2 linked regions of the Homo sapiens genome follow. The protein of the gene in region 2 purifies or fractionates together with the protein of the main gene of each other region. This does not show direct contact. Each region holds a gene or a part of one and is shown on either strand. Other genes may lie near its edges. The genes, in order: CCNT1 and PGC.

What was found.
Region 1: the proteins of PGC (region 2) and CCNT1 purify together in Homo sapiens (affinity purification with western blotting, with the first as the bait; one study listed by BioGRID). This does not show direct contact.

Annotation. Positions count from the first base shown.
Region 1 is NC_000012.12:48,692,555-48,696,367, forward strand, and holds part of CCNT1 (cyclin-T1), read right to left. Parts: intron 3,685-3,813; exon of another isoform or gene 3,609-3,684; coding exon 3,445-3,608; intron 3,276-3,444; coding exon 3,205-3,275; intron 1,883-3,204; coding exon 479-1,882; 3' UTR 1-478. UniProt on the Homo sapiens protein: Regulatory subunit of the cyclin-dependent kinase pair (CDK9/cyclin-T1) complex, also called positive transcription elongation factor B (P-TEFb), which facilitates the transition from abortive to productive elongation by phosphorylating the CTD (C-terminal domain) of the large subunit of RNA polymerase II (RNA Pol II).
Region 2 is NC_000006.12:41,744,341-41,748,666, forward strand, and holds the start of PGC (gastricsin isoform 1 preproprotein), read right to left. Parts: upstream 3,058-4,326; 5' UTR 2,995-3,057; coding exon 2,936-2,994; intron 469-2,935; coding exon 318-468; intron 175-317; coding exon 57-174; intron 1-56. UniProt on the Homo sapiens protein: Hydrolyzes a variety of proteins.

The sequences.
Region 1 (3,813 bases), on a different chromosome or scaffold from region 2:
TCCCAATTATATAAAAAAACTAAACAGATAACTTACTTTCTTTAAATTATTAAGTCTATTAAAAGATTTGACGTTTAAATACTTCCTCTCTTCTGATATATTAAACACCGAAAGGATCCACAATTGTCTGATACAAGAAACCCTCCATTTTTCAGCTCTGGCAAGAAGAGGGAAGATATCAACTCCAATCAACCTAATTAGATGGTGGAGAGGCCAAGAATTCAGAATGTGTCCTTAATCCTTCACAGCTTCAACACCTCTCTAATACCAGTAAAAACTGTAAGAAAATAGTTAAATGCATGAGACAGCAGATATATAGCCAAGGCCTTCTACCACCCTCCTAACTATGTCTCAATATCAATTTATTCCCTAGTCCAAGGATGACATATTTCATAAGTAATTTTCTTAGTCCAAAAAAAAAAAAGAAAAATTATGTGTTTTTTTAAAGAAGTTTTTTTCTCCTCTTCTTTTTCTTTTTTTACTTAGGAAGGGGTGGAAGTGGTGGAGGAGGTTCTGATGGCAGAGGTGGTGGCCGGGGTTTGTCTGTATTGCCAGATCTCGAGGAGATTCCACCAGACCGAGGATTCAGATAGTCACTATAAGGACGAACAAATTCAAATGCAGTGGGCTGAGTGGGCTGAACACCCTGGGCACTGAGCAGGGAGTGAAGCATATTCACAGTGTCTTGATAGTCTATTGTCTGGGTCGTGTTGTGACCATTGGCCCCAGTGGGCCCTTTATCCAGTTTCGAATGAGGGACACGAGTTTTACAGCTGGGCTGTGAAAAGGAAAGGCCACTTGTGTCTGAGCTATGCCCAGGCATCTGACCCATTGTAGGAAGTGAAGGGAAGGAGAAATTTAGGGAAGAGGATTTAGTACTCTTGGCAATCTTGGCTGGATGATCAAACACAGCCCCTCCAGTCTCTTCAGAGGGTCCCCTTTTACGAGTAGAACTGGAAGAGGAAAAAGAACTAGACAAGCTATAGGTTTTATGTGCTAAGTTGCTTGTCTGGCTACTATGTTTTGGATCACCAGGACGTTTGTTCCCAGTACCAACTGGAAGTTGGGAATGAGAGTGCTTGTGTGAGTGGTGATTATGATGATGATGATGATTAGATGGGTGAGTCTTGTGCTTTTCTTTGTGCTCTCGGCTCTTTGTAACACTGTCCTCTACAGAATTGTGCTTATCAGCTGCAGCATGGACTTTTATGCGCATTTTTATCTCCTCTGGTTTTGAAGACGCAGCTTTATCTCCACCTGCCACTGGGATTCTCATTTTGAGAGCTGTTTTGTCAGCCTTTTCCAGAAAAGGCCGCTCGGGGTTTTCTGAACCCTCTATGGGCATTTTTAGAATGACTGAAGAATGGCTATCATGATGAGAAAGGAGATTCTGGGCAGCATATGCATATTGTGACTTCACATTGGCTTCCATGTTCTCCAGTTGCCTCTTCTGGGCAGCCAATTCTTCTGCATGCTTCGCGCGGTATTCTTTCAGTGACACTTTAGCTGATGGCACACTCTTACTATTCTGCTTCTGGGAAATAAATGCATTTGAACCATCCTGTGGTAAGGAATGATCAACTCCTGTAAGTGCTAAATTCTCACTAGTCCGATGACCCTGAGTAGGTTCTAGTTTGAAAGAAGGTTGGGAGGACAGCCAACGCTTGCCCGGCAACATCTCCACACTGGTTAAGTTGCTGGATGACTCTTCGGAGACTGGCAGGGAAGGCACTGCACTTGTGGTAGAAGTTGACATGCTCATTAAACCTGCAATGGTTGTGTCTGAAGAGCTCTGGGAAATCATATTGAGGATTGTCTGCTCTGAAGTCTTTTCATCTGTTCCTCGGTCATCTGCTTTTGTTTTCTTGGCAGCCTCGCATGCCTGCAATGAAGCAAATAGCATCTCTTTACTTAGGTAATTTACTAAATAAAAAAACACTGAGATGAGTAGATTGTACTTGCAGCAACACTGGAAGTTCTGGATAGGCCACAGGCAGGAGGCTATCCTAACATGTAATCCAATAAATATTACCATCAAGAGAAGATTTTAAAACCTTCAATTAAGAGTCACAGCAATCTATCCAAACGTTACAAAGCAATAATAACAACAAAGAATCTATGCTTATCTAAAATTCATACATGAACATCCATGCCTTCGCTTATGATTATAGTTAGTCCATAACTGAGTTCTAGAAATTTTGGTGAGGTTTTATGCTAAAGTAAAAGATGTGCTCTCAAGCCTACTTCTTTTTTGTTGTTACTGTTGTTTTTTGTTTGTTTGTTTGTTTGAGACAGAGTCTCACTTTGTCATCCAGGCTGGAGTGCAGTGGCACAATCTCGGCTCACTGCAACCTAACGTCCCGAGTTCAAGCGATTCTCCTGTCTCAGCCTCCCAAGTAGCTGGAACTACAGGTGTGCATCACCATGCCTGGCTAATTTTTGTATTTTTAGTAGAGACGAGGTTTCACCATGTTGGCCAGGCTGGTCTCGAACTCCTGACCTCAGTTGATCCGCCTGCCTTGGCCTCCCAAAGTGCTGGGACTACAGGCATGAGCCACCATGCCCGGCCTCTCAAGCCTACTTCTAATCTCAGGCTTCTAAGAGGCAAACTCACTCTCTGCCACTCACTCAACTCAGGAGAATGAAATTAACTTTTTCTGTCTGGATTTAGGAGAAAACAATGGAAACATTTTAAAACAAGTTTTATATCTGACAGAAAAAAAAGGAATGATTCCATTATTCCTGAATAAGGCTTTGACAAGTATTTGAAATACAACTTCAGACTACAGCCTATATAAAAACAAAATTCTAAAATCCATTTTAAAAGTAGGTAATGTCAAACACAAAACTGTGATACCGGCTCTAACCTTGTAATTCTCTATCTTGCCTCTACCAGAAGCCAATACTCTAACTCCGAGAAGCCATGTTTTTTCCCTACCAGTTTCCACACAGAAAATACTGAACCAGTGTTACTGCTCAAATGATCATATCACAGGAGTTACACAATGAAAAGCAAATCCTGCTATCCCATAGAGACACTGACTTTTACAACAGTATCCAAGGTATGAAGTAGAAGTCATGATTACTGTGTAACTATAAAAAGGGCAATTCCAAACCTAGGGTACATATTCAATACTGGTATATTCACTGGTGCAGTCAAAAGAAATTGATTTTGTTCCACAAGCTGACAGTAATGATTCTTACCCTCCAATTCCAAATGCGTTTGAGCCTGTTGGGAGTTTTCTCCAAAATCTGTAGAAACTCATGTGTCAGTTCTACAAGTAAAACAGAACATTCAAGAAAGACTGAGAGAAACAGAAGTAATGAAACAAGAATAACCTGAACTACTAACTAACTATTTTCATCTGAATCAAGTCACCTTTGGCCAGCTATGTGACAGATCAACAGCAAGTGCTTTTCAAGGTCCCTTACTCTAAAACTTACCATCTAAAAGTTCCAAGGTCACAGTGGCGTCAACATACTCCCACCAGTGCTTCCCGTCAGTTGAGACTGGGATCTCCCAATTGGACCACTTGCAAGCCAGGTGAATGCAGACACAGGCCACCACAGGAGGTGTGTACTGCAGGCTAAATGTGGTCAAATGCAGGCTGACATCAGAGGGAAGAAAACAGAGAGTGTCATGAGCTCTCAATTCTCAGCCCAAAGCTAAAACTCTCCATTATTTAAAAAAAAAAAAAAAAAAAAAAAAAAAGGCTTAAAAATAGACAGGAGAGTAAGAAGGGTAAGAAATATGCAATGCTCTGATCTAGCACTCAATATAATTTCCTATTAACCCACCTGTTCAGGTAACAA
Region 2 (4,326 bases):
AGGGTATCAGTGCCTTGCCCTGCCAACCACCCCTCTCTGCCCAGCCCAGCACTCACTGCAGGCCTGGCTCTGGCAGTAGACAGAGGGCACCCACAAGTTGGAGGAGCCGGTGTCAAAAAGGACCAGGAAGTTCTGGGGTGGAGTCCCGATGCTGATCTCACCAAAGTAGGCAGCCTGGGGGCCATGGAGCAAGCTGTTAGTTCCAGAGGGATCCAGGGGCCCCAGGCTCCTCCATGGGCAGAGGAGTGAAGGGACCTGCCCCTTCCCTCCAGCCCACACCAGAGAGAAGGCTACCGCCAGAAAGGGTCAGGACTCACATCCATGTAGGCCATGGGCTCGTAGGTCACGCTGAGGTCACCAAAGCGGTACTTCCAAGCAGGATCATACTTGTGGGTCCTCAGGAACTCCCCCAGCAAGCCCTTCTCCTTCATGGTCTCACGGATAGACTTAAATTTCTTCAGGGGCACTCTACAGAAAGGTTGCATATGAGGCAAGGCCCTCCCTCCTTCCTCTCTTCCCACTCCTCTCTTTCTCTCTCTCCTTCTCTTAACTGCATGCTTCAACCTCCCTGCCACTCTGTTTGTTCCCCCTTGTCTGTGTGTGTCTTTTTCTCTCTCTCAGCCTTTTGCTCTCTGTCTCTGTCTGTCTGTCTCTCTGTGTGTGTGTGTGTGTGTGCGCGCGCGCGTGTTTCTTCCTCCCTTTGCCTCTTCCCCTCTTTCTTACAAAGCTCTTCTCAGCACTTGCTCTAAGATTCAGAAAACCATTCATTTCACCATGCATGCACTCCTCACCTCATCTCAAGGGTCCTCCTATCTCCCTGGCCCTTTGCTGTCAAATATCCCATAGATTCCTCCCCAGGAAAGGAAGAGGGACTTTAGGCTTTACCCTTTTCAGGATATGTACTTTTTTTTTTTTGAGACGCAGTTTCACTTTTGTCACCCAGGCTAGAGTGCAATGGCACAATCTCCGCTCACTGCAACCTCTACCTCCTGGGTTCAGAAAATTCTCCTGCCTCAGCCTCCCGAGTAGCTGGAATTACAGGCGCCTGTCACCATGCCTGGCTAATTTTTTGTATCTTTAGCAGAGACAGGGTTTCACTATGTTGGCCAGGCTGGTCTTGATCTCCTGACCTCGTGACTCGCCTGCCTAGGCCTCCCAAAGTGCTGGCATTACAGGTGTGAGCCACCGCACCTGGCCCAGGATATGTAGTTTTTTTTTTTTTTTTTGAGACAGAGTTTCGCTCTTGTTGCCCAGGCTGGAGTGCAATGGCTTGATCTCGGCTCACCTCAACTTCCACCTCCCGAGTTCAAGCTATTCTTCTGCCTCAGCCTCCTGAGTAGCTGGGATTACAGGCAAGGGCCACCATGCCCAGCTAATTTTGTATTTTTAGTAGAGATAGGGTTTCTCTATGTTGGTCAGGCTGGTCTCAAACTCCCGACCTCAAATGATCCGCCCGCCTTGGCCTCCTAAAGTGCTAGGATTACAGGCGTGAGCCACTGCGCCCAGCCCAGGAAATGCACATTTTTAACAGAAGATTTCAGGCCAGGCACGGTAGCTCACGCCTGTAATCCCAGCACTTTGGGAGGCCGAGGCGGGTGGATCACTTGAGGTCAGGAGTTCGAGACCAGACTGGCCAAGATGGTGAAAACCCATCTCTACTAAAATTACAAAATTAGCCGGGCATGGTGGCGCATGCCTGTAATCCTAGCTACTCGGGAGGCTGAGGTGGGAGAATCGCTTGAACCTGGGAGGCAGAGGTTTCAGTGAGCCGAGATCGCGCCATTGCACTGCAGCCTGGGCAACAAGAGCGAAGTTCTGTTTCAAAAAAAAAAACAAAGAAGATTTCAGAGATGGCAAAGTTCACCCCAGAGTTCCTTTCTACGGCAGCCCTCAGGCACCTGGCACCAGCTGGATGTGACAGAGCATGGAGCAACGGCAACAGCACTAGCTGGGACTCAGGACACAGAGTCCTAGTTCTGTCCCAGCTGCTAATCGCATGGCCTAGGCCCCATCACTGCTCCTCTCAGGACACCAGGACCACGGGAAGTTGGCCTGGGTGGTCTGGAGCACAGATCAGCTCTGGAGTTGGAACTTATAAATCACCGTTTCTGTCCCATCCTATGGGCTCAGTCACACCCTCGGCACTCTCCTTCCCAGACTTGCTTGCTGCCATTGCTTGGGAGTCTCTAGGGGTCCACTCTGGCCTTGCTCTAGGCTCCAGAATTCTGCTTAATCCCCATTCCCTGGGGACTCTGCATTCTCCAGAAATTCTCTGCTAAACCCCTTCACCCTGAGCTATGAAGACTAATTAACCACCTCTACCAAATATGCATATTGATAGGAGTTTCTGAGAGGAGCCAGCTCTTGGCCTCAGGAAGTACTCTTGGGTAGAGAAATAACAGGCAGGATGGCAGGCTGGGCGCCTTCCTGATGGCCTGTGAGCCATGCCATCTACTCCAGAGTTTTCTCCTGACCCCTCAGGTGTAGAGATTTACATTTACTGGTGTTTCTGCTTAGATGATTTTGGCATCTGCCAGTAAATTTTCAGCCTTAAAGCAACTTTTAGAGAGGATAGTGGATAAGATATCCCTTATCCAAAAAGGATTGCTCCCTTCTGTGAGAAGAATCCACACCTGCCATTCAAGGGCTGCTTGGGCAGTAGTCACCCTTACCACCTCTGTTTCAGGTCCATCTTTCCTCATCAGATGGGGGAAGGGATCGTGCTTTTCCCTTTGATAGGAAGTTTCCTGAAGGCAGGGGCTGTGTCTCCTTCCACCCATGTGTCCTGTCTAACATCAGCAAAGGGAGACTTCCCTTCCCCTAGCAGAAGTCCCAGAGTAGAGACAGGCAGGGTGTCCCCTGGCCCAGTTGCCCTTTGCAGGGCTTTAGGCTCCCATCCAGGCTCCCTGCACCAGCAGCCAGATCCCAGACTCACTTGACCACTGCTGCCTCCAAGAGCTGGAGGCAGACCAAGACCACCACCATCCACTTCATGATGCTGGTCCCCAACTGGCCACAGAGGAAGAGCAGCTCTGAGTTCTGCAGTCGCAGTGGAGTGAAGACCTGGGCACTCTTTCCTCTTTTATACGCCCAAGATTAGTCTAATCGCTGCCTCCCTGCCCTGGGCAGCCATGACCTCAACCCAGGGTGTACCCTGTGCTTCGTGTATCGTTTCTGTGTATTTTTCCTTCTTGAGGGTGGCCGCAACAGACTTTCATCTTATTGACTTTTTGGTTCAAGCATCGGAGGCCAGGAGGTGCAAGCGATAAGAGAGAAAGTTGCCGTAAGATGGAGTGGTGAAGATTACGTCTTGTTCCCAAACCAGAGGCATAATGTGTGCATTTAGGGACGAGGGCCAGAAAAAGGTAGAGGCAGAGTGCTGGGATAGATAGGATCTATAGCCAGGGTTTCGCAACCTCAGTGCTGTCGACATTTTGGAACAAATAGTTCTTTGTTGTGGGCCCCATCCTGTGTACTATAGAATGTTTAACAGCATTCCTGGCATCTACCGACTCGATGCCAGGAGCAGTCCACCCATTGTGCCAACCAAATATATCTCCAGGCACTGCTAAGTGTCTTCTGGATGGGCAAAATCATTGAGAACTGCTTGTCTCTAGGTTATGTACTTGAAGCTTTGACTCCACTCCTAACTCCTAGCACCCTCAAACCCTCAGGGGAGGAGATAGGGGTGTCAGGGGGTCAAGAGGTCAGTAGCTAGTAGCTAGGATGCTGGTTACAATGATGGTGATGGTGAGGGTGGTGCTGATGGCAGTGTCGGGAGTTCTGGTGCTGGTGGTGGGGCTGGGATGACAATGGCTGAAGTCACAGCTATTTGAGCAGCTTCAGAGGCTTTCAAGGTCAAACAGGACATTTGGAGAAATGCTTGTCATAATTCAGCAAATGCTCAGGACACACTCACAGAGTAAGCCACACCAGCTTCTGGTTGTGCCTCTTGTACCGACCTAGATCAGAGGCCTGGAGCAGGGGCATATGAAGAGGGACAGGCCTGCGCCCTGCTGCTGTTCCTCGTTCTCTCTTCTGCCCCGCTGCGTCCCTGCTTCTGTCTTCAGTTCTCCTAAAGTGCCTATGTCTCCCATGACCCACTCCCAAGCCCTTGTGCAGCCCCCAAGTCTGATTTGTTAGTTCCTCTATCCCTCATCTCGGCACCCCCTCCCCCACCTCCCCCAACTCCCACCCCACTTCCCAGCTACCAGCTTCCCATTGCCTGAGGTGACCTGGAGCTGGCCCAGTGCCTGCTCACCTGGCCCAGGACAGCTCTCCATTTTGGAGTGAGTGGGAAAAAAATCCCCGTGCCAATAGCCTCTC